Linked DNA regions of Homo sapiens. The protein of the gene in region 3 purifies or fractionates together with the protein of the main gene of each other region. This does not show direct contact. Each region holds a gene or a part of one and is shown on either strand. Other genes may lie near its edges. The genes, in order: TMBIM4, PTGS2, SURF4, DERL1, ADGRG5 and TMED7.

The links.
Region 1: the proteins of SURF4 (region 3) and TMBIM4 purify together in Homo sapiens (co-immunoprecipitation; one large-scale study listed by IntAct). This does not show direct contact.
Region 2: the proteins of SURF4 (region 3) and PTGS2 purify together in Homo sapiens (affinity purification with western blotting; one study listed by BioGRID). This does not show direct contact.
Region 4: the proteins of SURF4 (region 3) and DERL1 purify together in Homo sapiens (affinity purification with western blotting, with the first as the bait; one study listed by BioGRID). This does not show direct contact.
Region 5: the proteins of SURF4 (region 3) and ADGRG5 purify together in Homo sapiens (co-immunoprecipitation; one large-scale study listed by IntAct). This does not show direct contact.
Region 6: the proteins of SURF4 (region 3) and TMED7 fractionate together in Homo sapiens (co-fractionation; one study listed by IntAct). This does not show direct contact.

Annotation. Positions count from the first base shown.
Region 1 is NC_000012.12:66,141,585-66,146,843, reverse strand, and holds part of TMBIM4 (protein lifeguard 4), read left to right. Parts: intron 1-885; coding exon 886-1,003; intron 1,004-5,259.
Region 2 is NC_000001.11:186,669,534-186,674,359, forward strand, and holds the end of PTGS2 (prostaglandin G/H synthase 2 precursor), read right to left. Parts: coding exon 4,820-4,826; 3' UTR 2,258-4,819; downstream 1-2,257. UniProt on the Homo sapiens protein: Dual cyclooxygenase and peroxidase in the biosynthesis pathway of prostanoids, a class of C20 oxylipins mainly derived from arachidonate ((5Z,8Z,11Z,14Z)-eicosatetraenoate, AA, C20:4(n-6)), with a particular role in the inflammatory response.
Region 3 is NC_000009.12:133,360,107-133,364,414, forward strand, and holds the end of SURF4 (surfeit locus protein 4), read right to left. Parts: intron 3,654-4,308; coding exon 3,387-3,653; 3' UTR 3,370-3,386; coding exon of another isoform or gene 3,358-3,369; 3' UTR 1,358-3,357; downstream 1-1,357. Other genes in the region: SURF2 (surfeit locus protein 2), read left to right, coding at 1-23, 159-328, 950-1,033. UniProt on the Homo sapiens protein: Endoplasmic reticulum cargo receptor that mediates the export of lipoproteins by recruiting cargos into COPII vesicles to facilitate their secretion.
Region 4 is NC_000008.11:123,034,858-123,040,116, reverse strand, and holds part of DERL1 (derlin-1), read left to right. Parts: intron 1-5,259. UniProt on the Homo sapiens protein: Functional component of endoplasmic reticulum-associated degradation (ERAD) for misfolded lumenal proteins. Forms homotetramers which encircle a large channel traversing the endoplasmic reticulum (ER) membrane.
Region 5 is NC_000016.10:57,570,143-57,573,642, reverse strand, and holds part of ADGRG5 (adhesion G-protein coupled receptor G5 isoform 1 precursor), read right to left. Parts: intron 3,226-3,500; coding exon 3,108-3,225; exon of another isoform or gene 3,010-3,107; intron 2,474-3,009; exon of another isoform or gene 2,322-2,473; intron 1-2,321. UniProt on the Homo sapiens protein: Orphan adhesion G-protein coupled receptor (aGPCR). Ligand binding causes a conformation change that triggers signaling via guanine nucleotide-binding proteins (G proteins) and modulates the activity of downstream effectors, such as adenylate cyclase.
Region 6 is NC_000005.10:115,615,312-115,620,570, reverse strand, and holds part of TMED7 (transmembrane emp24 domain-containing protein 7 precursor), read left to right. Parts: coding exon 1-136; intron 137-151; exon of another isoform or gene 152-503; intron 504-1,371; exon of another isoform or gene 1,372-1,432; intron 1,433-4,125; coding exon 4,126-4,362; 3' UTR 4,363-5,259. Other genes in the region: TMED7-TICAM2 (TRAM adaptor with GOLD domain isoform 1 precursor), read left to right, coding at 1-136, 4,126-4,253. UniProt on the Homo sapiens protein: Potential role in vesicular protein trafficking, mainly in the early secretory pathway. Appears to play a role in the biosynthesis of secreted cargo including processing and post-translational modifications.

The DNA.
Region 1 (5,259 bases), on a different chromosome or scaffold from region 3:
TCTTATCTTTTCCATGTTCACCTTCCTAATCCTGTAATGGCATAAACAGAGAAATTCCAATCATGTAGCATTTAATGATAGAAAGAACATGAATAATTACTCCCCTGAAAAATTAAAAATTACTTAAATGGCTTTGGGTTCAAAGCAGTTAACCTCCAAGAGGTTATAACTTTGCAATTTATTAAAATGTTAAGGAGTTTTATTACAATAGCCATAATTGAATGGATGATTATTCTAAAATTACAGAAAGGAATTTGGCATATATTCAGTAAACCCCAAAATAATGTACTCCAAGATAATACACATTTGGATATAAAGCAGTTAGTGGTTGGTTTCTGTCCTCTGCAGGGTAAGTGAATGGTAGGCAACCCCAGACAGCCCCAATATTTTTCTTTCCCAATTTCCTTGATTTGGGCTGATAAACCAAGTATAACTAACTAGATGATTGCTGGATTTGCTGCTACTGTCCAGGAATTCCCAGCCAGGCAGGAGACCCAGAATCATCCCTATTGATATTTAAACCATAATGGACAATCACCACAGATGGTGGTAAACTGTGCCTGGGACAGAGATGGCTGAGAATCACTCCCATACCTGTAGAACTCCAAACTGGCTACAGGCGTGATAGCTCTCCAGTCATTTCATTAACTTGGTAATAATGTGACCTCTGATTTTGTATGAATGAATTTTTTGGAGACTGTTAATTGCATTATGGGTGTGGTTTCACTGTACCCATGTAGTCAAGGATGGATAAGAAATCTTTTCTAATTGTTTTTATTGGCATAAAGTACAGGAGAAAATGAAGCATTTCTATAAAATGCCAGAAAAAGCTGTTTTGTATTGAGCATGTTTATATGCATGTTAATCAGTGTTTTAATTTTACAGTTACTTTCTATGATGTATATATTATTCTGCAAGCTTTCATACTGACTACTACAGTATTTTTTGGTTTGACTGTGTATACTCTACAATCTAAGAAGGATTTCAGCAAATTTGGAGCAGGGTAAGTTGTATATATTCTTGGATATAATAGATAGATGTCTTTAATTATTATAGGTGGTTTTGAGGAATGTGCTACACTGTTATTTTTGGGTACTGTCTTTTAAAATGGAGGGTAATAAGAGATCATCTCTTTGAGTACTAGGGCCAGGTCCTACTCCTAGAACATACACAGAAATGGAAAGTGGCTTTGACTTATTTGCTTCTCTCCTATAGTGAAAGGGAAGTGAATTAAAAAAAAAAATAAGCTTTCCAGAGAGTTTAAGCTTGTATGCTTTATTAACATTATGGAATTTACTGAAATTACTTCAGTCTTTGTCTTAGCATAAATGTTACCAAGACCATCCACGTCTTCTTGGAAGAAGCGCTGTAATTAGTACAGGTATTGAAAGGGTCTGCATGAACTTTAAGACCTTTTGATCCATCTAGATTAACCTGTATCCTTCCTCAAACAAATATACGGAATGATCCTTTTTATATTAGGATTATGGTACAGCATTGCCCTCACCTGGTAGGAATGCATAGACTCTTTTCTAAGCTCACAGTGGCTTCCTGTTGGCACAGTCACCCAACCGTTTTCTTTTTCCTGTTACAACACTATTTACAAAACTCTGCTCTTGCTAAACTTTCTTTCCTCCCCCACCCCTTTTATTCTGGTAATCCAGAACACCAGAAGTCTCTATTGAGATAAAATATAGTTGGTCAGCCAACACTGACAATTGCGCGAGCTGCTTAAATAGTTTCATTAGAATGGAGTTTGATTTAGGGAGAGGTAACATTTTCTATTTTCTTTTCCTTCTTTGGAAGGATGTTTCATACATATTTGTGTGGCATATATGATGAAAGTTTTGTTCTACTTCCTCTTCTCAACCCAATCTCCAACTGTTCCCTCCCTTTCATTAATTCCAGTATCATCTCTCTTAAATCCTTTTCTGGTAAACTTGCCTTATATTTCAGCCTCTTCATAATAAATTTACATTGATTGATAGAAATGGTATTACAGTGATCATATATAGATCTGAGACCAGATATTTCTGAAGTGCGTCTGTCTGTGTCTGCTGTTTCTGATAATTCTTATGATATTTTCTTTCTTTAAGTGTTCAGTTATTTTTGACTATGTAATTGTCCTTGAAAAACTATTTGTTGAATTTCTTTGAGGCCTTGATTGAAGGTGCACTTTTCCATACAGTATTTGGGTTTTCGCCTAGCATCTGGGAAAACTATTGGATTGGGTCCACTTGAAACTAAATTCATGGCTTACGATGTTTTCCCAACCACACAAGTGTTCTTCAGTTAGACTACAAATCAGCAAAGGGATAGCTTGTGGTGACAATTTCCCAGGGATGGTTCTTCTCTGCCCCCACCCCGCAATTTACCCCTGCTTAGTGCATTGATGACTTTTCTTGTAGTTGGGCAAATTCAGCTACAGTACTATGATTACTTCTTTGGGTTTCCACTTTTACCTAGATTTTGATTTGATAATTCCATTCTACCTTGACAGTTATTTGATGTTTTTAAGAACGTATTCTTTGTTTTCTCTTTTATGCATCATTTCAGTAGTTTTTCGGGGTGGGACAGGGGCAGTAATTAGTCTGGAATAGTTCTTACTTGCTGTAGTACTGGAAACGGAACCCTTTCAAAATTGCCTCTTACCTGTATTACTACAACCAGCCTCTCTATTCTCCAGTCTTAACAGTTTCCAGCCTCTTTTCCACCAAGCAGTTGGGTGATACAAAAATGGAAACTTGATTACAGTATACCTATTTAAAACCCTAACACTTCACTACTGCTCTTGGTATACAGCCCAGTTCTCCACTGAATCACATCTACTGCTATTAGTTACTGGATATTGCCATGTAATGACTCTCTAGCAAAATCCTAATAATAATTATACTTTGGTCAGTATGCCATAGATTCAGCTACTTAAGAGTAGCACTTTATTGCATTTTAAATAAAACTTAATGGCACTACTTACTGTGACGCCTCAAAGCCAAAGTGGTTGTGGAAGCTGAGTGCCAAAATGGATATAAAGACCGAGGGAAAAGATTTTCTGTGAAAATATTTTCTAAAAAGTTTATAGGCTGTTCCTTCTGACCTGTTTATGGGACATAATAGGGACTGAAGAAGTGCGTTAAATGTTTGGATGTATGGTAGTATCAGGCAATGGTGGCAGTGCTTCATAGATTGACTTAAAGCTGTGATGTTTTTACAACATCATTATCCTGTGGTAATTCTGCCACAAAAGGAATTAAATCTCAGAACTACATATGATAACTGTGGCAACTGGTCATTGGTGTGCTAGAGTTGCCTTGTGCCAGCTTATGAGGCATCTTGCAAGTCAGTTGTTAAACTGCTGGAAGTTTAAAGTAGGCCATGAAGGATGTATGTACACCACAGAAATTAAGAAGCACTACAAATCAGGGCTCATTTTCTTTCCTAGAAAGTCAGTTTACTGGTACATCACTGTTTGTAAGTTATTTTTTATTCTGTGCTTCTTGTTGAGAGGGATGAGGGTAGGATTTGTCAGTCTTCTAGATGGAGTTGTTAGAATAGCAAAATCAGCACTATGTCCATGGTATATCTTATCTATATTCTCAGAAAATTTGCTCTCTTTGATGCTTAAATATTTAATGAGATGTGAGTCAGAGTAGAGTGAACTAACAACTTAGGCAGAATATTTGTAGGACATGACTTTCAAATCTTTACCTGTTACAGTATCTACAGAGAATGCTGTCATAAACTGACAAGTCTTAGGCTGAATTTCTTACCAGAAACTTACCAAATGGAGCCTGTGACCCTAAATAACTGTTTTAGTGTGTGTACACTTAGGTTGCTGGGTGGGGCATGCTGCTTAACCAGGGAGCCTAAGTGTGTCAGATTTCAACTTGGATGTTGTAGTGGAGAAAAGGTATCTGTTTTAATATGTATTGTCAATAGTGTCTGATCAGGCTCAAATGTAGGATCTTGTCCAGTTAGTGAATAAGAGTAAATTAATGTCCAGTGACCTCTGGCAGCCCTATCCTAATGTCTTATTAGAAGCCCACAAGAATTGGAGAGGATTTTTCATGGGTCTCGTGTTTCTGAATGTCTTGTGAATGATGTGCTGACTGCTCTTTGTTCCAGACAATCTTTTTAAGGGTTTTTTTTTTCCAATAGTGAACAGCCTGGAAAGATAGAAATAGTGCTCGCTAGAGCAGAGGGCAAGCATGTTTACTTTCCATTATAAAAAAGACTTGCTTCCCTAAATTCAAGGTTCCTCTCTTGTAACACAACCCACTGTGTGTGTAGGTGTCATGTGGCCCTCTTAGCATCACCTGGGCCCTGTCATAAAAATGCTGATACTACTGTTATTACTGTAAACTGTCCTTTATCTCAGACCTAGGAGCTTGATGCATCCATGAAACTGTGCCAGGCTAACTTGTTAGCCTGCAAGTAGGGTAATATCTCGGATGCTGTAAGTTCTTAATATCACCTTCCCCATACCCCATGGTGCAGGAACGTTGGAATTTCCCTAGGCTTTAAGAATGAAAAAGCAAATCCTAAGTCCCTTTCAGTCCTGAAGGATCTATGTTGTGAGGTAGCATGATACCTCATTCTCACTTAGGTATGCCAGATGTATCCTGAGAAATTTTAGGGCCATTTCAGAGAGACAGCTGAGGACTAGATTCTCATCATGCCTTCATTTCACCAAATAGCATTACAATAAATAACTCTGTTACTGTGAGAGAACTTATTTTGTATGAGTTCAGTCCTTTTGCATTTATTTATTTATTTATTTTTTAATGGTATCTTGGTAAATGTTCTTTGTGCACTAGACAAGAATGTGTATTTTGCTGCTGCTGTCGGATGATTTGATAAATGTCAATTAGGTAAAGTTGGTTCATAATGTTAAGTGTTCTATTTGCTTACTAATTTTCTGCCTACTTGTTTTATCAATGTGAGAGGGGTGTTGAAATTTCCAACTACAAGTATGGATTGGTCTATTTCTTATGTAAATTCTATAATTTTGCATCATATTATTTTAAACTTCATTTTTAGATGCAGAAACATTTAGGATTGTTACGTACTCTTGGTGAACTGACCCCTTTATCATTATGAAGTGACCTTCTTTAGCTCTAGTAATATCATTGCCCTAAAATCTATTTTGTTATTAATATAGCAACCCCAGCTTTCTTCTTAATTTGTGTTAGCATGTTAGCATCGTATATGTTTTTCTATCCTTTTATTTTTAATGTATTTGTGTCTTTATATTTACAAGGT
Region 2 (4,826 bases), on a different chromosome or scaffold from region 3:
TATGCAGCCAACAAACATGAAAAAAAGCTCATCACCGGTCATTAGAGAAATGCACATCAAAACCACAATGAGATACCATCTCATGCCAGTTAGAATGGCAATCATTAAAAAGTCAGAAAACAACTGATGCTGGAAAGCATGTGGAGAAATAAGAACGCTTTTACACTGTTGGTAGGATTGTAAATTAGTTCAACCATTGTGGAAAACAGTGTGGAGATTCCTCAAAGATCTAGAACCAGAAATACCATTTGACCCAGCAATCTCATTACTGGGTATATACCCAAATGATTATACATCATTCTACTATAAAGACACATGCACATGTATATTCATTGTGGCACTGTTCACAATAGCAAAGACTTGGAACCAACCCAAATGCCCATCAATGACAGACTGAATAAAGAAAATGTGGAACATATATGCCATGGAATACTATGCAGCCATTAAAAAGGATGAATTCATGTCCTTTCCAGGGAAATGGTTGAAGCTGGAAACCATCATTTTCAGCAAACTAACACAGGAACAGAAAACCAAACGCTGCATATTCTCACTCATAAGTGGGAGTTGAACAATGAGACCACACGGACACAGGGAGGGGAACATCATACACTGGGGCTTGTCGAAGGGTGGGGGGCTAGGGGAGGGATAGCATTAAGAGAAATACCTAACGTAGATGACAAGTTGATGGGTGCAGCAAACCACCATGGCGCATGTATACCTATGTAACAAACCTGCACGTTCTGCACATGTGTCCCAGAACTTAAAGTATAAAGTGTGTGTGTATATATATATATAAAATTACTGCCACTGCCATAAGGAGAATGGTTTGGGCTGAGGAAAGAATAGACAAGAGAACACCAATTAATAGACTATTACACTGCTAGGTTGTGAAGTTGGAAAAAAGGTGACAGATTTAAGATTTATTTGTGGGTTGTAGTCAACAGGATTGCTGTTGGATTGGCTATGCAAGTGAAGGAAAGAGTATGGTGGTGTCTTTAACGTTGGACAATTATTATTTGGGATATATGGTTCTGGGAGGGAAGAATGTAAAAGAAGCAATTAAATTGATGACTTTGAGTGGAGAGGTTGTCAATTGACAATTTGGAGATGTTGTCAATTGACAATTAGACGTTGGTCCTGGAGTGCTTATTTCTGAGTGCTTATTATTTCAAATAATGAGCTTAAATGTGATTAATCTGGAGGAATGCAGACAGAGCAGATATCAAGACACTTCAACTTATACATACAGTAGAAGAGAAAGAGCTTAAAAAAAAGAGAGAGAGAAAAGACTGAGCAATAGTGCTCTGAGAAAGGTAGAGAAAGACCAGGAGAGTATCAAACCATGAAGCCAAGGTTGGGGCAGGGGTTCTTTCAGTAAAGAGATTATAGCTATTTGTGTTGAATGCTACTGAGAAGCCAAATAAAAAACAGATTAGGAGAATGGCTGGATTTAATCAACTTGTGTCAATTCAGCACAGTAGAGGGAGAATATACAGAGCAGAGGGGAATGATTAGAATGATGGACAATAGAATCTGAGCTAGATGCATATGGAAGTAAATGGAAAGATAAAACAGGTGATAAATAGTGAAGTGATGAGGTTGGTGGATCGGTAGGTTCAGTGAGACTGAGAGTTAGATGTTAGAGTGTAAGCAATAAAATAGGTGAGCTGGAAGATGCTTGGAATCAAGATTTTGAAAGTGGTGCTGTAATTAATCATAATGATATCAAGATATGTATGATTTCAGGAAATATGGTGGAAGAGGCCATCCCTGGAATGGAGAAGGCCAAAGAGGAGAGGCCAGGGAAGATGCTAAATATGTGGTCCATGTAGATATTGAAATTACCAAGATGTCAAGGATAGAGGTACAACAAAAGCCTATGAGCTTTTGCATCAATGATTTGCCCAACTTTGTATAATTTCCTCCTCTTTGAACTTCTTAACTTTGTGCCCCCTTCATAATATATGTCTTATTCTTTGCCTTATTGTGTATTTTTTTCTTCTTCTTCTAGACTAGGCAATGAAAATAAGCTTGTTTGCCATCTTCTGTAAAGATACACAAACTAGACATTTTCCAACACAGTGTCGCAGTGAATAAGGATTATGAGATTTAAATAGTGACTCTAGGAAGCCTCTATATAATTGAGGGCAAAACCATTTCATGAAGGGCCAGTCCTAGTTTTGAATAGGTAGGAGAATGCAAGATAATGGTTTAAGAGTAATGCTTCAGAGAAATCTTATGTCATATGACAAAGATGTATAGAAACAATCAAAGTTTATCTTCAGAAAAGATCTGTCAATTTTTAAATAGTACAAAAATAAACAGACATTTATTTCCAGACTTATCTTTTACATAAGTTAAATACACATTTGTCTGAGGCACTGAAACATTCGCATACACAACCCAAATTCCCAGGTTTTGTCAGCAGATCAATGTTAATAACAAATCAAGTTTTTTTTTTAAAAAAAACAGTGAACAGTGTTTTATACAAGCATATTGACTATTTCTTTCTTAACCTTAAACATTCTAAACGTAAAATTGTAAAGAAGATTCTCCTGAGTTATCTTTAATGATATTTATTTCATTTTCTCCCTCTTCCCAAAAGAAAATTTTTTTCAATTATTTATATAAATACTATTATCTGTAATCAGCGTTTGATTTAAAAATATTAAAACCCACAGTGCTTGACACAGAATATTTTCTCAATAAATTGTGGCTGAACAAATTAACGAAGCATCCACAGATCCCTCAAAACATTTTAAAAGGTCAGTCTTATGGCACATTCAGGCTAATGAGACAATATTCTTTGTGGGCTAGCACATAGGCCTATCCTAAGGACAAACATTCAACCTTAAATATCTCAATATGCCAATCAGATTTCTAAAAATTTATTCACAAATCTTAATACAATCATTTCTTTGGATTGTTTACATAATATTCAGAGAGGTAACCCCAAAGAAAATATACTGATTGTGACATAACAAAAAAAAATCAATGATTGTAGGCTTAAACACAGTTTATAACCATAGTGTCCTAATAAGACATAAATAATAATCTTCAATAAATTAAGTAATATACAGTACCATTAAATGTCAGTGACAATGAGATGTGGAAAAGAAGTATTATCGTCATTATTATTATTGCTGAGAACTACTTAGATATCATTTGGTTTTGTTTTTAAATAAGAAAGGGCATTAATTAGAATGGGAACGTAACTTTTTCCAGTCACAAACCCCGTACAGTTCTCTCTGAGGCACTAGCCTCTTTGCATCCATCTTGGTTACAGATAGCTAAAATTAGCTATAAATAAAATTCTCTGCTTTTCACTTAAAATAAGTGTATACTATTTTTAAAAGGGCCTTTTTTTTTCTCTTTTAATCTTCTTAAGAGGAGCTAAATAGCAGTCCTGAGCTGAGGTTTACCTGAAAACTTGCAAAAGTTCAGGTAAGAAAATATAGGCAGAGTCCAAAGAAAGTGAACTCTGATCTTAAAACTAGTAAAACAAAATAGGAGAAACGAAGTGATGAGAAGACTGTGTCTCTTAGCAAAATGGCTAAAAGAAGAAAAGAAAAGGAACAGCATGCAGGTAGCCAGGCTTGATTCCAATGCACCTACTGAATTGGCTTCAAGACTGAGATAAAATTAATGTGTGAAATGAATTTAAGCATTTTGAAGAGGTATTTTATGAGGTCATTGCTACTTTTGCAATGTGATATGGACTGCTAAATTAAACTGTACAACAGAAAATCTGAGAAAACATATCATTATTCAAGCACAGCTTGGTACTTCATTAACCTCATAGCAAAATCTGAGTACCAGGCCTGCAGTGCACAAGGATAAAAAAAAGTTTGCTTCAAAAGTTTAAACCTAAATTTGAACAATAATTTGGTTTTCTTCTTTGTTATTGCTTATTTTAAAGGTAGACCCTTTTGCTGATATAGATTTTACATGTTACCAGCCATATAAACAAATTCTGGAATATCTCAACAAAATATTCTTATTTTAAGATAACACTGCAGTGGCTCCACCACCTTAATAAATTTGGCATTTTGATTTAAAAGGAAGTTTTAACAGTCACACTAAAAAGGTTTATACTCTTGGTGAAAAAGGAACATCACTTATAAAATATTTTAACAAGCAATTGTAGTAAAATTTCTACTGATTTTACAGATTTAAATCCAAGACAGCTTCTTTTTGGTATATGTACAAGTTTAATAACTTTAAGAAATCAAACAAGCTTTTACAGGTGATTCTACCCTATGAATTTAGAAATTTCAAATTATTGTTTCATTGCTGATTTTAAAAAGTAGACATGAAATTACTGGTAATGTCTAATTTAAATATTCATTTAATAATGCACTGATACCTGTTTTTGTTTGATGACAGAAAAATAACCAAAAGTACTTTAAAATTTCAAACATTAGTTACTTCTAATGCATCATGGAAGATGCATTGGAAACATCGACAGTGTAAAAACTTTCAGCATTTTGCCATCTTGTGACAGTGTTTAAGTATTCAAACATCTTTACTTTCGTTCTTATAATATAAGTTGAAATTCAAGTAAAAAGACGTCAAAACTCATTTCTCTCTGGTTTATAAAACAGAATAAAAACTGTTTTCCAAACTTAACAGCAACAGCAAAATCTTTAGAGTAGTGACATAAAAGTCTTCACAAGTATGACTCCTTTCTCCGCAACAGGAGTACTGACTTCTGTTACAGAAGATGTTAAGTAACATAAGGAGTTTAATATAAATATTATTAAATAATTAAATTAATAGACATGGTTCATATAAATAAATAAATATGATCATTAGACTTCTACAGT
Region 3 (4,308 bases):
CAGCATGACAGACCTGTACCCACGTAAGCAGAACAGGCCCTGCTTCTCCCTGACCCTCTACTGTCAGCAGGGAGCAGACTGTGGTGCTGCCTCCCCTGCAAAGGTGGCAGCGAACTCAGCCTAAAATAACTGTCAGCCAATCCCTGTGTTCCTCCCAGCTGAGCTATTCACCAGAAAGGACCTTGGAAGCACGGAGGATGGGGATGGCACTGATGACTTTTTGACAGACAAAGAGGATGAGAAGGCAAAGCCCCCAAGAGAGAAGGCCACTGATGAGGGCAGGAGAGAGACGACCGTGTACCGAGGGCTGGTCCAGAAGCGCGGGAAGGTGAGCTGTCACCTCCTCTGTTAGTGTGGCAGTGGCTTCCCCTAGTGATGGTTTTCCATTTGTTTAAAAAAAGAAAACTGAACCTTTTTCACAAGTGAAATCCCAAGCCAACAACACACAAGAACCATAGAAGCCGAGGCCGCTGGCTGGCGGAAGGCCGTGAGTGCCTACCATTGCTTCCCAGCCAGCCCCTTGTGGAAGCCAGGCTCTGTGGACCACGGTCAAGACCACTGGTTTGTGAGGACACCCTCCTACCTCAGACTATGAGCTGTGGCGTGTTTGTCCTTACCCCTGGGCACAGGGACCTGATTACTAGCCACCACCTTTGCCTTTGCCATCAGGGCAGGAGTGGAGACTTCCCCGCCTTTGGTAGATAAGCAGGACCAAGGCCAAAAGAGGACAAGGTCCTAATGAGTGTGTGGCATTGCACTGTACTCCTCTGAGGCCCTGCTGAGCGGGGTCTAATCCTGCAGCTGTTAAGGAAACGGGGGTGGAGAAAGCCTCTGTGGGTATTTGACCGACACCTCTGAGGCTGTGTGGGTGGGGAGAGCCCTGCACTCCAGGGCCCCTTCTCCATGGGATCAGAAAGGCTCAGTAATCAGAATTTTGTTTATCCCACAGAAGCAGTTGGGCTCGTTGAAAAAGAAGTTCAAGAGTCATCACCGCAAACCCAAGAGCTTCAGCTCCTGTAAACAGCCAGGTTAATAAAAGCACATGCCGTGAAGTTTCGAGAAAGCCTTCAGATATTTCCCCCGCTCCTGATCAAACCGTGTGTCCTCTGAATGATCGGCTGTCCCCAGTGTCTTCTCTACCCACTTATCCTTGTCTCATGACATCTGCTGCCCTCTAAGGCAGGGCTGAGGGAGTCTGTCCCCCACACCCAGGAAGCAGCAGGGACTCTGAGGGACTAATTCTCTCTGGACATGGCTTCTGAGTGGTCTTCAGAGAAGCCTAGAGAAGTAACCTCGCTCACTGGCATCCTGAGGGGAGCCCCATTCAGGCTGGGCAACGCTATAGGATCACACTGCATACAACAAACGCCATTATTTATTTTGATGTGTTTCCAAAAATCAAAACGTTTTCAAACACAACTAAGATATAAAATACAGCATAAAATGAGATTTAGATCTGTTTCCCACATAAAGCAAAAAAATCTTAGAAATTGTTTTGCCAGAATCAATTGGTAGATCCCACTTATCCTCCCCTCCCTGCAAAGGCATCTTCCCGAATCAGGCCCTAGCCCACCCAGGGCCAGGAGAAACAGGAACACCCACTAGGACGGAGGCGCTGCTGGTGCAGAACTGGTGCTGACTGCTCACGTGGCCTCCTTTGGTCCACCCTACTTTCCACCAATCAGCCAACCAACCTTGACCACAGAGAAACCGTGACTTGGCCAAGGTCATTTGATGGGGGCTGTCATACGGCACTAACAGGGAGCGAGGTGTGGACCAAGAGACAGCCCTGGTGAGGTTGAAACACTGAGACAAGCCAGTCTTCATGCAGTGAGCACTTGAATGATCACAGGAGAAGAGAACCCATGTCCTGAAGCCATTGCTCGATCTTACCAATATTCGGGGGTAAGGAAGTAGGCTACCAGGGGAATATTTGCAAACGCGTTGGGACTAGTTCGGCTGTGTTAAAAAGGTAGGTGACTTCCAAAAGCACTTATGAGCAGAAACCTGCCTCACCCCTGCCCTGCAGAGCCAATGGATGAGAGGCCAAGAGGGAGGCAGGCTCGGGGCTGGGCCGCAGCAGCCCTGGAGACAGGCTGAGCCAGCCTGTCCCCAGATAGGTCTAGGGGCCAGAGAGGTGTTCGACTACCCTTGTGGCATTTACTATGGTGCAGACGACAGGGAGCAACAAGCAGTTAAGCTCCCCCAAAAAGAGAAACACAGTATAAGGCAGTGTTAGAAAACTTTAAATACAGGATTAAGATCAAATCGGTAAGGCATCACAAATTGTAAAAAGGAATTTTGGCTGCATTCGGCATAGCAAACGGACAATCTGAGTGAGCGACAGCCTCAGGAAAGTGGTGTGTCGGGGCTGTCCACAGGGCGAGTGCAGCTGGGAAAGGGCGGTGCTGCTCAGCCAGGGCGGCCTGCGCTTTCGAGACCTTGCTCAGAAAAGGCCCCATGTGAGGTAACTGGGTTGAGTCCGTGGGTCTCCAGTGCTGGGAGCTCCTGCCACACCCCCTGCCCACAGCGGCTGCGGCTCTGCAAGCTGGTCTGAGCAGCTGGCCAGGCTGGCTTGCAGGGTGCTGCTGCTGGGGCTACCCCTGTGTGGTCTCACTAGCCCTTCCCACTGCCAGCTTGGAGGCCAGCAGCACCCAGACCAGCAGCTTCCCCAAGGACTTCTTGCCCCTCCACCTTGCCTCAAGCTACTAAAACTCCCAGGGTGTTACCCAATAAAACACTTGGCACCAATCCAAGCTGATTTTCTGACCGATGACTTTTATCATAAACAGCAGCTTCTACCACCCCTTTAATACTGCATCATTCTTTGGGTGTCCCTAAATGTTTTCACTATTCCTATAAAATACAATGCGGGGCAGAAACAACATCAAAGCCACTGGTGTGATTTTAAACCAGGGAGATTAACTGTTTTGAGGTTTGGCTGAACCACCCAAAATAATTTAGTAGTTTCCGCTAAAAATGTAAACTTACAAATAAGAGGGAGACTGCTTTGAATGATAATACCAATGCGTCTGCTCACAGTACAGCTTGAAGGCCCCCTCCTGTACCCCCACAAAAAAACTCAAAAATAGGACTGAGATGCCACAGCCAAGCGGGCTGTTCACTCCAAAGCCTCGGCGTGGGGGAGGCTTCCAGCTGCCAGGCTGGCCTGCACTGAAGGGTCAGACGCCAGACTGTGGCTCCAGAGCAGACTGAGCCATCGATTCTCAGGTGTCTCTGCAAATAAAGTTCTCAAAACATCTGTGCCTTTACCAAGGGAGGGGAAGGGAAGAGGATACATAAAAGCTGGCAGTTTTGTTGAATCCACCCCGAACCAGTCCTTGACGGCCACGGGTCTTAGCCAGGCAGGTAGGGATCTGTGACTGTTACCACTCCTTCTTCTTCTCATCCATGGAGACACCCCCAGGGCCCAGGGCCACCACCAGGAGCAAGCCCCCAATCACCGACATGGTCTGGAAGAAGTCGTATTTCAGGAAGTCATGCATGGGCTTGTAGACTGGAATGGTCCAGAAGGCGTTGAAATATACGTTGATGGCAAAGAGCCACACAACAAGAGTCAAAGCAGCCAGCTTGGTTTTAAAACCAATGGCCACTAAAATCATCAGAGCTGTGCCCACGATGTTCTGGACAATCTGCATAGGTTGAAACGTAAGAAATTCAAAATAAATGTGAGGAAAAGAGATGCTTTATAAACAAAAGTTCCAGCTGCTGCACGTCATGAAGTCTCTATCCATCAGGCTGATGTAGCTACTGCTGAGACGGCTGCTGGTGCAAGTAGGGAGATAAAAGCCAAAGGGAGGCAGGAGGCAATAAAGCACCAGCTTTGAAATGTGGAAGGTTTGGGGAAGACTGAAGTTCCCAACTAGTAACAGGCTGTGATTTACCAAGATGAATCTCTAATCCATAACTAAATTCCCAAGTGCTTCTTGGCCCACCCAGCCATCCAGGCCAGAAACATCCTCTCTCCTCTCTCCATGGCGCCAGGAGCTCTTCCTGGACACTACCCGGCCAGGGCTCTCAGTCAGCTCCGGAGGTGTGCTCTGGAAGCTCCTGGAGGCCTGCCCCTGACACCTGACACACAGGAATTACTTGAGAAAGATACGAACAGTGAGGAAAGAAAGAAGAGTAAGGGGAGCCCGGGTGGAGAGCCTTGGCCAACCAAGGGCCAAGCACACTCCACCAAGGTCAGAGGTTCTGGCCTTCATTTGCTGGAAAGAAGGCTTGACACACAAGAGATTGACGATGTTTTGGTCTGTTTTAATGGGATCAAAAAGTTTGCTCCGCCGA
Region 4 (5,259 bases), on a different chromosome or scaffold from region 3:
GCCTCCCAAGTAGCTGGAATTACAGGTGCACACCACCATGCCCAGCTAATTTTTGTATTTTAGTAGAGACGGGGTTTCGCCATGTTGGCCAGACTGGTCTTGAACTCCTGACCTCAGGTGATCCACCCGCCTCAGCCTCCCAAAGTGCTGGGATTAGAGGCGTGAGCCACTGAGCCTGGCCTTATCCTTCATTTTTCTTGCTACATATTACCCTTTGGTATTTATTAGTCTGCTTCCCCTCAGAGAATAAGGCTCCATGAGAGCCGTTCACCACTGTCCTTGTTACCTGGAATAGTGCCTGGGACGTAGTAGGTGCTTATATATTAACTGAGTTGTTGGAAGTAATTGGGCACTTGCTGTGTGCTGGGCACTGGGGTACAATAGTAAATAGGACTGAAAAGGTTTCAGAGCCTGTGAAGACATAGAGGCACGTGTTTTAAGGGGTGTAATATTTGATAGGGTGTTCCACCCAGAAAGGCCTCAGAGAAGACATTTGAAGAAATTGGAATACTGAGGAGCCAGCCAGCCAGCTTTGGGTAGATCTGGCTCTGGAGACAACCTTCCAGGAAGGACTAGTAAGTGAAAGGCTCAGAAGTAGGAGCTGGGAACAGGAAGAAGACTGGGTTGCCAGCTGGCACAGGGTCAGCTGTAGGGTGAGGATTAGTAGATGACAGCAGGGAGATAGCCAGGGCTGGGTGTAGTAAAGCTAAGATGGAAAGGTGGGTTAAAGCTAGATCATAGTTGAGCCTTGTAGGTCATGTTAAGAGGTTTGAACTTTATTTTGAGGGCACTATGAAGTCTTTGGAGCCTTGTGAACAAAGGACTGACAGATTGCCCCGACTATTCTGTGGAGTGGACTTTGTGTGTGTATGGAGGGGGTTGAAGGAGGAAGGGCTAGGTGATGAGATCAGAGAGATGAATCCAGTTAGGAGGCCAGAGAGATGGTGGTTTGGATCAGTGTGGCTGTGAAGATAGAGAAAAGGGCATAGACTTGGCAGAGGGGACGAGATTACAGCCGAATGGATATAAAGAGTGAATGGGTGAAGCGAGCAGGACTGAAAGATACTACTGTTTTCACAGGAGCAGCTGAGTGGATGGCGGAGCCCTTGACTGAGATGGGGAATGGTCAGGGATACCTGGGTTGGGAGTGGGGGCTGGTATGGATGAAGAGTTAGGTTTTGGCTGTGCTAAGTCTTGAGATGCTTTTCAGGCATCCATGTGGCGAGGCCAAGGGAGCAGTTGGATATAAAAACATGACTCTGGAGTGCAGCTGGAATTGCATACTGTTCTGTGTTTATTACTTTACTAAATATTTGTTGGCTGAGAGAATGTTGTGTACTTTGTCCCTGGTGGCTTGTTGGGTAATGTGTGGTCATGGGGAGCAATGGTGGCATATTAATGTGTGAGAAGGACCTGGTCAAAACCGGCTTGTTGTCCCTGTTAGCAAAATCCTCACTTGTGTAGTGACACTAGTGACTACACGATGTAAATAAGCACATTGTAAAGAAGCAATGTAAATAAGCCTAACAGGCTGCGGGTGTATAAGGTTAAAAGTGGTGAACTGATTAAAAAGAGTAATCGTTCTTGTCACATCTTCCACAATTTTGTCATCTTCCCTGTATTATTTCTTCTCAGCTGCCAGCAGGAGGCAGGACAGTGTACTGCCCAGGTGTGAAAAGACCAACAGCTGTACCTTGTCTTTTCTTCCTGTTACTCTGATTCTTGCCTATTTTGGACACATGTAACTTTCAGACCCACCTGGAGGAACTCATTTGCAAATGAAGCAGTCAAGGAAAAACTGCATTTGAGAGGCTGCTGTGCACGGACAGTGTGCGGTGTGCTTTAGCAGAGTTCTGCTAGAAAGTTCCTTTTTTCCTTAGAAGCTGAATCTTTCACAACTTACAAAAATGGGGGAGTGATTGATTTAGAATTGTGTGCTCATGTTGGAAGTGACAAGTTATTTTTCCTCCTCAGCTCTAGATTCTTGTGTGTAGCTTGTTGGTTTAGAACGCTGAGGTTTATAATGTTATTTCTTTAGTTTGGATAGGTTGAAACAGGTGTGTGTTAAGACTCATTATACTGTTGTCTACGATTTCTCCCTATTCTGAGTCCCTCAGATTTATGTTCATCAATCAAATAGTTCACAATAATGAAATGTCTTCATATTAATCGTTGATTAACTACACAAGAGGTGGCAATTCCTGCTGCCTTTGTGTTTTCTAAGGTTATGTCTCCCAGGGCCGCCTGCATGGCTATATTTCTTCATTTCTTTGGACAAAATAACATCACCCTGTTACAACTTCCCTGAGGTCATGTCACTGAACTCTGACAGTCATCCTGAGATAAGTGTTACCCCCATTTTGTAGACAGCTTCAGTTTCAGTTTCTATTTCGTTGAGTCAAGGATAGTTCTAAGCTGTTTTGTTTAACTCCTTTGCATAATATCTACGAAAAAAATAAGTATGTAGCAAAACATTTTTGAAGGTGATTTCTTCCAAATCAATCATAGCAAATTGTTTTTCCTTTTCTATTCGAGTAGAAAGGCTGTTAGATTTCAAGTAGTTGAATCATGGTCTCAAGGCCTGGCTCAGTCCCCTGCTAGTTGTGTACCCTTAGGCAAGTTATTTATCCTGTCTGAGCCTCAATTTCTTTAGGATCTGAGGATAATATCATAGCATATTAACTTTGTTCTAAGACTCCATTGATTATACGATGCACCATCAATTTAATGCAACTTTTTTGGGGGACAGGGGAGTAGAAATTACATTCAACGAGTGTATTGATTGTAAGACACTCTAATTTCAGAAACACAGGAACGAGTACCTTCAAATTGAGGAAATATGTTATCTACTTCTTGCCTCTAGTATGTAGAACACATAGAAAAATGTTTGTAATACCCAATAAGTAGCCTGATAAATAAGCTATTCAAAAATAGTTGCCTCCTACGTGGTTGGTATGGGAAAAAAAATAGTTGCCAATTTTTATTTATCAGCCAATACTTTATGCCTTATTTCCTTCTCTCCTGGACAGTAAGATTCTAATTTTAATTAGTAATTGCAATTGAAATGTAACTGCTGGATGATTATTCTGCTTTGTCTTCTTAAAAGCATCCTGACTTGAAATGGGAAGATGTGAACTCTTGATTTCTCTAATTTATTTCCAGGAATAAGAAATGGTACCAACCAATTCTGTGACTCAGCCTTGTGCTTATATTTGCCAAGCTTTTGCTTATATATCACATTTAACCTGATGACAGCAACCTTAGGAGACTGATTTAAGGGTGTATTGGGGAAGAGAGACGTTTCAACATAGCAGGGAGGAGAATGAACTTGGACTATAGGCTGAGCATAGAAGTTCTATATCCATCAAGGTTTGGCTATAGAACTCTAGTGGCAAGTGTTCTGGTACGTAATTTAAGATCTTTCCTTAGTAGTCCTGTCCATGTTGAACAGTTCTGCTGTGTTCTGTAATAATGTTGCCCATTAGATTGTGGCTTTTTAAAAAACTTTTTATTGAGTTACAATATACAAGCAGGAAAGTGTATGTATAATAAGTTTATAGCTTGAGTTTTTAAAAATTCAAAACATGTATACAGCCAGCATTCAGATCAAGAAACAGAATCTCTAAAAGCTTTCTCCTGCTTCCTTCTGGTCACTGTCCTCTCTAAGGGTGACTATGCTCTTGATTTTTAATACCATGTATTGTTGTTGCCAGTTTTTATGCTTTTTATAGGTGGAATTATGAAGTATGTTCTCTTTTGTGTCTACCTGCTTTTATCAACATTATGAGAGTCACCCATATTGTTGCATGTGGTTATAGGTTGCTCATTATGGGACCATACCACAATTTATTTACTCATTCAGCTATTAATGGACCTTTTGGGCAGTTTCCAGTTTGGCTATTATGAATGGTGCTGCTATGAACATTCTAATACATGTCTTGGTGAACATATGTACTTCTTGGTGAGGAGAAATAGTAATTTCTGTTGCCTATATATCTAGGAGTAGATTTGATGGCTTCTAATTGCTCTTTTTAAAGATTAAGTGCCTTTCATTTGTTTAAATGAATGGAAGGGGCCTTTTCTTGCCTACCCGTTGTGTCTCCCCACCCAGCAAAAAAGGCCACAGTTTACTAAACTAGCATTTGTCACACAGGTGCTCATCATCTTTCTTGCTTGGTGACTGATATATACTTAAGTCCGAATCAAGTGATCCTTATTATTTCAGACAAATCCTCACTTTTCATACTTTAAAAAAAAAAACACTAGATTCTGGATGGCAAATTATTTCAGTAGCAGATTGTTTAGAAGATTTTAGCTAAAGGATGGCTGCAACCTACACTCTGAAGTTGTTGGACTAATAACTGAGGAACAATGTCTTATGTCTTCTTTAAGGGTGTATATAGCAGTGAGCACATGGGCTACATGTCCTTGTTAAGTGAGGAACTCTAATTAGGGCCCAGCTTTCCTCCTGAAAAAACTGGGATCATTATGGGCCTGGCCTTGAGGTTGCTGTGGACTTAAAATGAGATACTCCCCCACGAGTCCTCTCAGTAAGTGTGAGGCAGGCAGTCCTCTGTCTGCAAGTCGTGGCTCTTTGTGCTGCAGTTGGCTGCCTCTTAGGCTTTCCAGGGTTGAAAATGGGCCTCTTCACTCCTGGCACTGAACGTAAAGCCAGTTCCTTCTCCTTACTGTTTACATATCAGGTCGAGGAAAAAATGGGATTTAGTTGGATACTTACAATGGGGATTTCCGAAATATGTTACACTGTGTCCTTCTAAAGAGATAAGCTGTCTTCTGGTGTTTTCAGATTATAATTTTAAAGTAACACAAAAATAATATTAAGTCTTTTAGATCAATGAAAGCAAGTATAACTCAAGGGTAGGCTTAATGAACAGGGAAAAGAAGTGAGATATTTTGACAGACACTGATTTCCAAAGAACAGGTGCAAACAGTGACTAAAAATAGTCTTATGTCATCAGCATTAGAGAAAATGTAGTCAGACAAAAACAAGGTTTCTTTTCCAAAACCAGGCCTTGAGTAACTTATAGGAATATGGGGGTAGTTGAAATATGAATTTATAAAAACTGGTTAGCGGGTGTTTCCGAAAAGATTGTGATAATACAATTAACACACCCACACATATTAATTCTTTTTGCATAGTATCTTTTTAATTCACTTTCTTAATTCCAACCTTTTACAAATCCTGTAAGATAAGGAAGGCAGAAGTCATAGGATAATGTCATTGGGTAGATGATGAAG
Region 5 (3,500 bases), on a different chromosome or scaffold from region 3:
TACTTCATCCTCCTCATTTACAGAGGGTGTACATCAAGTAACCAATGGAAACCTCTAGAGCATATTTAAATCTCCACAAATTCTGTAATAGGGCTCTTGAGGCCCTATGCTCTGGCCCACTCCCACACTGTAGCGTGTACTTTCATTTTCAATCAATCTCTGCTTTTCTTGCTTAATTCATGCCTCACTCTTTCCTTTTTTTTTTTTTTTTTTTGAGAGGGAGTCTCTGTCACCAGGCTGGAGTGCAGTGATGTGATCTTGGCTCACTGCAACCTCCGCCTCCCAGGTTCAAGCAATTCTCCTCTCTCAGCCTCCTGAGTAGCTGGAACTACAGAATCCTGACACCACGCCCAGCTAATTTTTGTGTATTTTTAGTAAAGACAGGGTTTCACCGTGTTGTCCAGGTTGATCTCGAACTCCTGACCTCAGTTGATCCACCTGCCTCGGCCTTCCAAAGTCCTGGGATTACAGGCACGAGCCACCATGCCCAGGCTTGTCCAATTCTTGGTTCAAGACGCCAAGAACCTGGACACCCTCCACCAGTAACGATGTGCTTTATGTGACTTGTCCCCTGCAATCCCCATGACAACCCATAAGGCAAGTACATAATCGTCCTCATCCTGCAGATGAGGAAACTCAGGCTCTAGCTCAGGAACACAGTCCAGTTAGAGGCAAAGCTGGATCCTGAAGCCCCAGGCCCAGAGCCTGAGCCCCTAACTGTCACAATCCCCTGCTGAGGTTCACTTTGTGGCTCCTGCCCCTACAGTCACAAGGGTCCCAGGACATTATTTTGGGATTCCTCCAAGTTGATGAGTGTGGTAGGCGACCACTCACTTTCACCGCTAGGGAATATCCCCACGGGGGCAGCTCTACTGCAGTCCATTCATCCAGCATCCCGTCAGTGGACATCTGAATGATTTTCAAGGGTTGTATTTGTTTTGTTTTGTTTTTTGAGACGGAGTCTCGCTCTGTCTCCAGGCTGGAGTGCAGTGCCGCAATCTCGGCTCACTGCAATCTCCACCTCCCGGGTTCAAGCGATTCTCCTGACTCAGCCTCCTGAGTAGCTGGGATTACAGGCACCCGCTACCATGTCTGGCTAATTTTTGTATTTTTAGTAAAGATGGGATTTCTCCATGTTGGCCAGGATGTGTTTTTTATTTGTTTGTTTGTTTGAGTCAGAGTCTCGCTGTCGCCCAGGCTGGAGTGCAGTGGCGATCTCAGCTCACTGCAAGCTCCACCTCCCAGGTTCACGCCATTCTCCTGCCTCAGCCTCCCGAGTAACTGGGACTACAGGTGCCTGCCACCACGCCCAGCTAATTTTTTGTATTTTTAATAGAGACGGGGTTTCACTGTGTTAGCCAGGATGGTCTTGATCTCCTGACCTCATGATCTGCCTACCTCAGCCTCTCAAAGTGCTGGGATTACAGGCGTGAGCCACCACGCCTGGCCTGTTTTTGGTTTTTAACTGATGTTTGGGTTTAGGAATGTGTATATACATAGTAAGAGATGTTTTAAATTAAAAAAAAAAAAAGTCACAAACCCCAAGGTAATTGTTTCCTGAGAGGAGAGGGCAGAGTGAGGAAGACCCAGGGAGAAGCTGGCTCGTAGGTGGGTGTTCTCTAACATCTGTGCATTAGTGGGTCCTGTGGACGTGTCACTAAAGCTCCTTTGTCCTCATCATATTATTATATAAGAAAATAGGCTGGGCATAGTGTTCACGCCTGTAATCCCAGCACTTTGGGAGGTCAAGGCAGACGGATCACCTGAGGTCAGAAGTTGAGACCAGTCTGGCCAACATGCTGAAACTCTGTCTCTACTAAAAATACAAAAATTAACTGAGCGTGGTGGCACGCGCCTGTAATCCCAGCTACTCACAGGAGAATCGCTTGAACCCAGGAGGCAGAGGTTGCAGTGAGCCGAGATCACACCATTGCACTCCAGCCTGGGCAACAAGAGCGAAACTCCATCTCAAAAAAAAAAAAAAAAGAAAAAAAAGAAAATACATCTTCAGAGAGTATGTAAACTGAGGCCAGAGCCTCTATTTCCTCATCTGTAGGTTGGGGATGATTATGTACTTGCCTTATGGGTTGTCATGGAGATTGCAGAGAACAATTCATGTAAATTGAAGTCACATGTCCTCTGATACACCCGAGCCTCAATGTGAGAGGGATCAGCCCCACCTATGTAGCACGCAGTCCCCCGGCCCTGCTTCAGGGGCTGGGGGCCAGGCTCTGGACCAGCCTGCCGGAGACCAAGCCCCAGCTCTGCCACTGACTGGCTAGGGCTCCTCAGGTAGAGTTCTTAAGCTGCCTGTTTCTCAGGTGCCCTAACTGTAAAATAGGGCTGGCAACAGGACCCGGCCCTTGCCCTTGTGAAAACGAAGCCAGCTGATACCCAAGGCCTGCCACAGAATCAGCCCCCATCCTGAGCCTGCATCAGCCAAGAAGGAAAAAGGTTCCACAGCCAACTGCAAGTGAGTGATGGGCGCGCGGGGGTTCCTTAGGCTAGTCTATGTCTGGCTATTAGAAATGTTGCATAATAATAAAAAGCTTAACGTCCTCGCCTGCAGGGAGGGGCTATTAAAAAAAAAGCAGCAGCGTGTCCCCCGGCCCCTAAAGGCCCACCTCGCTGCCTCTCTTTGTCTCCCCCAAGCCCAGCCCCCACAGCACTCTTGTCCGACTAGGAGGACTTGAGAGGCCTGGCAGTGCCCAGGGCAGGTCGGGAGGAGTTGGAGCCTGGGTAGGTGCAGCAAGGTGGTCTGCAGGGGAACAGAGTCAAGTGCAGGCTGAGCCAGACCCTCAGGGCCTGGGCACTGGAGGGCAGGGCAGGACAGAGGAGGCGGGAGGCCCGGCTGCCCTGGCAGGTTGGCGAGCAGACGCTGGCTTCGTAGACTTCACCAGCATAGAACACAAGGCTGCCTCTGCAGGAGACCTGGATCCATGGAAGGGATGTGGTGGAGCCCCCTGCAAACTCCCCTGTCTAAGCCCCAGCTCCCTCTCTGCCCCACAGCCAGTGCTTTGCCTACAGGATATTCCATTTGGAGCCCCAGGCCCATGTGGCCCTTCTGCCAGAGCCAGGGAGCCCACTGCAGCCCTGAGGGCACTCACATGGACATGTTCTGGAAGCCTGTGCCATTCTCCCAGCTGTCGAAGACGGGGATTGTGCAGGGTCCGTATACCGAGCTCTTGACAGAGAGGGAAAGCAGCACCAGGAGGGCTGGGGCCCCTGAGGGGTGGGACAAAGGCTCAGGAGATGTGGGAGAGGGCTGACCCTCGGTCCCTGGGGCGGTCCCTGGGGCTGCTGACACAGAATTTCACTGGTCAAGGGACAACTGAGAGGAGACTGTTGTGAGCCCCCAACTTCAGAGCAATGAGCCTGGTGGTTTGGAGGAAGCTCTCCTCCAAGATGATGTTAGTGACGGCTCTACGATGGAACAGTGGTGGAGGGAGGAGTGGTCACACTGGGAAGGTGGTGGTGGGGAGCAAATGGGAGGGAGGACT
Region 6 (5,259 bases), on a different chromosome or scaffold from region 3:
CAAAAATGGGACATACAAATTTTGCTTCAGCAATGAATTTTCTACTTTCACACATAAAACTGTATATTTTGATTTTCAAGTTGGAGAAGACCCACCTTTGTTTCCTAGTGAGAACCGAGTCAGTGCTCTTACCCAGGTAAATAAAAAAATCAGCAATATAATGTTGGTATATTTAAAAGGAGGAAAAAAGCATAATTTAATATCATGCACTAACTGATGAGCATGGAATTTTGAGACTGACAGTCTTTAAAATCTATCTTAATTCTTACATGTAGGCATTTCACAGAGAACTTCAGACTTTTGTAGTGAAAAATAATGTTGAAAGATTTTATGAACTTTTAATTGTAAAGAGAAAGAAGCATTAAAATAAGGAGGAAGATCACTAAGGTAGAAACATCAGTGGTAAAAGAAGGTTGGGAAGGCTGAGCAGTGTTCCAATCTTCTGAAGCATTTTCTTTAATCCCTGAAGGAATGTTGCTGTCATACTCAGGAGGCTGGTGTAACTGGAAGCAAAATGATGCCTAAATTAGTAGATAAATAATACCATATCATAGCCTTTATACCATTACTTAGTGTTACTCAAGCTGCTGTAACAGTAACTTGTGCTGTAACTTTAGGTGAAATATTGAAGATTAATGGTAAGTCATCTCACAAAAATAGTTACAAAAGCTAAATTCAGATTTATTTTGGAGACATAGAGAAAGCGTAAAAAATTTAAACCCAGTGAACAACTATTGCTTAGGTGATGAGGACTGTTTTATTTCTAGTTCAAATACAGCAAAATCCAAAATGCTTCAAAATCCAAAACTTTTTTTTAGCTCCAACCTGATGACACAAGTGGAAGATTGTTACATCTGATCTCATGACACATCATTGAAAATATCATATACAGTTGCCTTAAGGCTGCATGTATAAGGCATATATGAAACATAAATGAATTTCATGTCTAGACCTGGGTTCCATCACAAAGATATCTCATTATGTATATGTAGACATTCCAAAATCAGAAAAAATCTGAAATTCAAAGCACTTCTGGTCCCAAACATTTTGGATAAGGGATACTCAACCTGTATGGGCTTAGATCGTATCTAAAAGTTACTCAATTAGGCATGAAAAAGAATTATTTACCACTTATTCGTTAACATCTTAAACTGGTATTTTAGTGTTCCCAGGTTCTATTTAGTCTCTTGGCCAAAGTCATGGTGAAAGAAACAGCTTTAAGAATGTGTAAAAGCCTTAATTCATAAACCTGTTGTTAGAATTAGCAAGATATATTCAAATACTCTTAATTTTAGAAATGTTCTCTTTATTTTAAGGTCTTGTGTGAAGGACACCTTGCTTTGTAAAATGATATTTCTTTGGGGCCATTACCTTAACCTGTATCCATTCCTTCATGAATTTTAACTTGTATAAGGTGGCTTGTTCTAAAAACCTAAGTGGGTAAATATAAGAAATGAATGGTAATAAAGCAGTTAGTATCATACCCGTCTTTATCCATGCTACATTTTTTATTTTTCTCAGTCTTATTTTTCTACTTTCAAAAAGATAATGTATCATATAATAGGGATCATTATAAAGCAACTTTTCATACTTTAAAATTGAAAATTACCAGCTAGTAAGTTCAGAACAAAATTACCAGCTAGTAAGTTCAGAACAAAATTACCAGCTAGTAATGCAGAATAAATGATAAAAGTTTTACTCTCACCATTTTTTACCTGTTGATAAAATGATGGATTTAGAGTAGGCAATGATCAGCAGTCACTACTAAAACCATTAAGTAAAAGGCTGATGGGGAACTTTATACTGAGTGGATCAGACTGAATGATCATTCACAAATGGAGAGATAACTAGACATTATGTGCCTTATCATAATATGCAGTAAGAAGTACACAACATTGACTACTAGACGTTCCCACCCAGAACATTGCACCTGAATTCCATCAAGTCTCTAGCTCCAAATGCCAGTTTACAAGAAATACAGAGGATAAAGGAATAACATGGGAATGCAATCAACAAAATCCAGGACGTGGGAAATGCCACAGGATAGGGGTTGATGGCAAGGAAAAAAGGAAAAACAAGGAAGAAAGCCTAAAGATTAATGAACACTTACATCAGCCAAATGATTGTGTTAACCTTACTTGGATTCTTACTTGAAAACCAACTTTGAAACAATAGGGGAAATTTGAACACTATTTCCTGACTTTAAGGAACTGTTTTAGATTATTTCATGTGTTATAATACTATTGGGGTTATGTTTTTAAAAAGTGTTATCTTTTAGAAATAAAGTATAAAAGTATTTGTAGCTGAAGTGATAAAATATCTGAGATTTGCTTTAAAAATAATCGGGGAATGTAGATGAAGCAAGATTAGCCATGTGTTAATCTTTGTTGACATGGTGGGGGTTCATTGTACTTTTCTCAATACTTTTGAATATATATGGAAGTTTTCACTGTAAAAGTTTTTTAAAAATCACATCTCAGGCCAGGCGTGGTGGCTTACGCCTGTAATCCCAGCACTTTGGGAGGCCGAGGCGGGCGGATCATGAGGTCAGTAGTTAGAGACCAGCCTGACCAACATGGTAAAACCCTGTTTCTACTAAAAATACAAAAATTAGCTGGATGTGGTGGAGTGCACCTGTAATCCCAGCTACTCAGGAGGCTGAGGCAGGAGAATCACTTGAACCTAGGAGGTGGAAGTTGCAGTGAGCCAAGATTGCGCCATTGCACTCCAGCCTGGGTGACAGAGCGAGACTCCATCTCAAAAAAAGTCACATCTCAAAAGTTGTAGAATGCATGTAATTTAATTTCTGTGATTTTCTCTAATCCAGTAGTTCTTAACCCATACCCCATGGACAGGCTTGAAGGAGTTCCTAAATATTCTGCATTTGGGTCAACTCCTTGCCTTTATGTGTACTTTCCAGGTGAAGAATCCTTGGGCAATATGCCATTTTGAGAATATAGAGAAAGCAAATCCTAGAAGCACATCTCTCTCTAGCTCCTCATCACAAATTAGGAATCATTTTAGCACAGTTTTGCAAATTTTTCATTCCTAGGGGCCTGAACAAAGCAAGGACAACAAAAATATTTGACTCTTCTAATAGGTTAATGCAGTTTGTTGGCCTCATAATTTCTTACATTTTTTAAAAGCACTTTTAATAGAATATTTTAATAATTATTCCTTTCATACTTACTTTGGCAGAACTTCATTAAACATTATTTTCTAATTTCTATATTCCTTAACTAAAATTAAAACAAACTTAGATTTGTTTTTAAAACTCTTAATACAGGCTTGTTGCATAAAATAATAATAAAACATATATTTTACCACTAGGATTAAGTTTGCAGCAGTAGAAAAATATTAAACCATGGTATACAAAAAAACTAGTCATTTAACCTTTCTCAAAACAGATGGTATAATAAATGTATAAAAAGGCAAGCTGTTATCAGCTAAAGGCTCACAAATTGATTACACAGTGAAACTGAAACTTGCATCCTGTTGGGAACATACATATTGGTTTAGTTGACTGGCATGAGGGAAAAGGCTGATTTAACAAATAGATAAATGTAAAAAAACAAAGTCATTCCTATTCTGATAGATCCCTTTCAGATTTAAAAGTTACTAACGATTTTGATGTTGTGGCTGTTTTAAACATAGTTCAAAGAACTTTGACTAATTCAGCTTTTTTTTGTACTGTGCTTTGTTTATTTTTATAGATATTTGGGCTTTGACTTATATTCTCATTGGTGAGCTCACTGCCATTTTCTTCCTAATTCTTCTTTAAAGAACTTGGGCTGGAAATTCTGTAGTCACCAACCTTAGCTGATAAGTATTTCTGCTATTGTTAGCTTAGTGTTCCATCTGCCCCCTTACTGATGCCATGGCTGTGACATCTCAGTTGGGGAAAACAGCTGCTTCATGAGATCTCTAGCCTTAACAGTTGTCCCAGTGAAAATGAGCAGGGGGGTTTCATTGCAAAGACAACTGGCATAAATGTATGAATGAATGCCAGATTAGTAGCATGTTAGTCAAAAGAGGAATTGAGATCAAATTGAAAGAAAAGCTGAATATGATAGATGAAGTCTACAGAAAGTATCACACATACTGACTGAAAATATTTCTCTGCAGATGGAATCTGCCTGTGTTTCAATTCACGAAGCTCTGAAGTCTGTCATCGATTATCAGACTCATTTCCGTTTAAGAGAAGCTCAAGGCCGAAGCCGAGCAGAGGATCTAAATACAAGAGTGGCCTATTGGTCAGTAGGAGAAGCCCTCATTCTTCTGGTGGTTAGCATAGGGCAGGTATTTCTTTTGAAAAGCTTTTTCTCAGATAAAAGAACCACCACAACTCGTGTTGGATCATAACTACGTTTTGAGAATTGATGCACCATTGCCACTGTAATATTGCTGTCCTCTAATTAATTTTAGGTACTGAAGAACTTAATATTGGCAACATTTTTAAATCCTTACTCATACACTTGTTGGGAGGGATGTACAATGCATATTCCCAAACTGTGGAAAGGACACCTTTTTTTATTTGTAAAGGTGGAAAAACTTTGGAACTCATTTTGGGCTATTCATGTTAAATATTCAACACCAATGATCTACTCTGTTCGCAGTTGTTTATATCTACTCTTCGCACACTAAACTTTGGTATTTTGATTCCTTTTAACCATTTAAGACTACTTTTCTTATAGGTAGTTGATATTTTAAAAACTTTAGATTTAATGTCTACATGTGTTAGGGAGGAAGAAAATTGCCTTTTAATTGTTAATAAGAAAACCAAATGTGATGAACTGTAGCCCAAGCCCTATTCTGCACTGTTCAGTTTTATGGAGGAAAAATAAATCTACCATAGGAATGTTAGTTAATATTGATATATCATGGTAAAATTGATTTCTCACTAGCTTAGAAAATGTCAGACTTTTGTTTTTGGGGTTTATAATTTAAACCAGCTATGCTATTTTTTCATAAAGGCATTTGTAGTACACAGAAAACAGTAGTTTCAGTAGTGTAAAAGAGTTTATACAGGCCTTAAATATCAGACTTTGTAACAGGTAGAAATATTACAGAATAATTTAAGACACTACAATGGGGGCAAATGAAATAGGAAAATTTTTAGTGAGTTACACGTACTCATTACATTTTCAGTGCTTTTACAAGGAAAAAAGGTGATATGTTTAATTTTAAAATTTTAATTGGCTAGCTCTTGCCCTTATATGACTTTAATGTCTGTGAGTCATTCCCAGCTTAAATTAACAA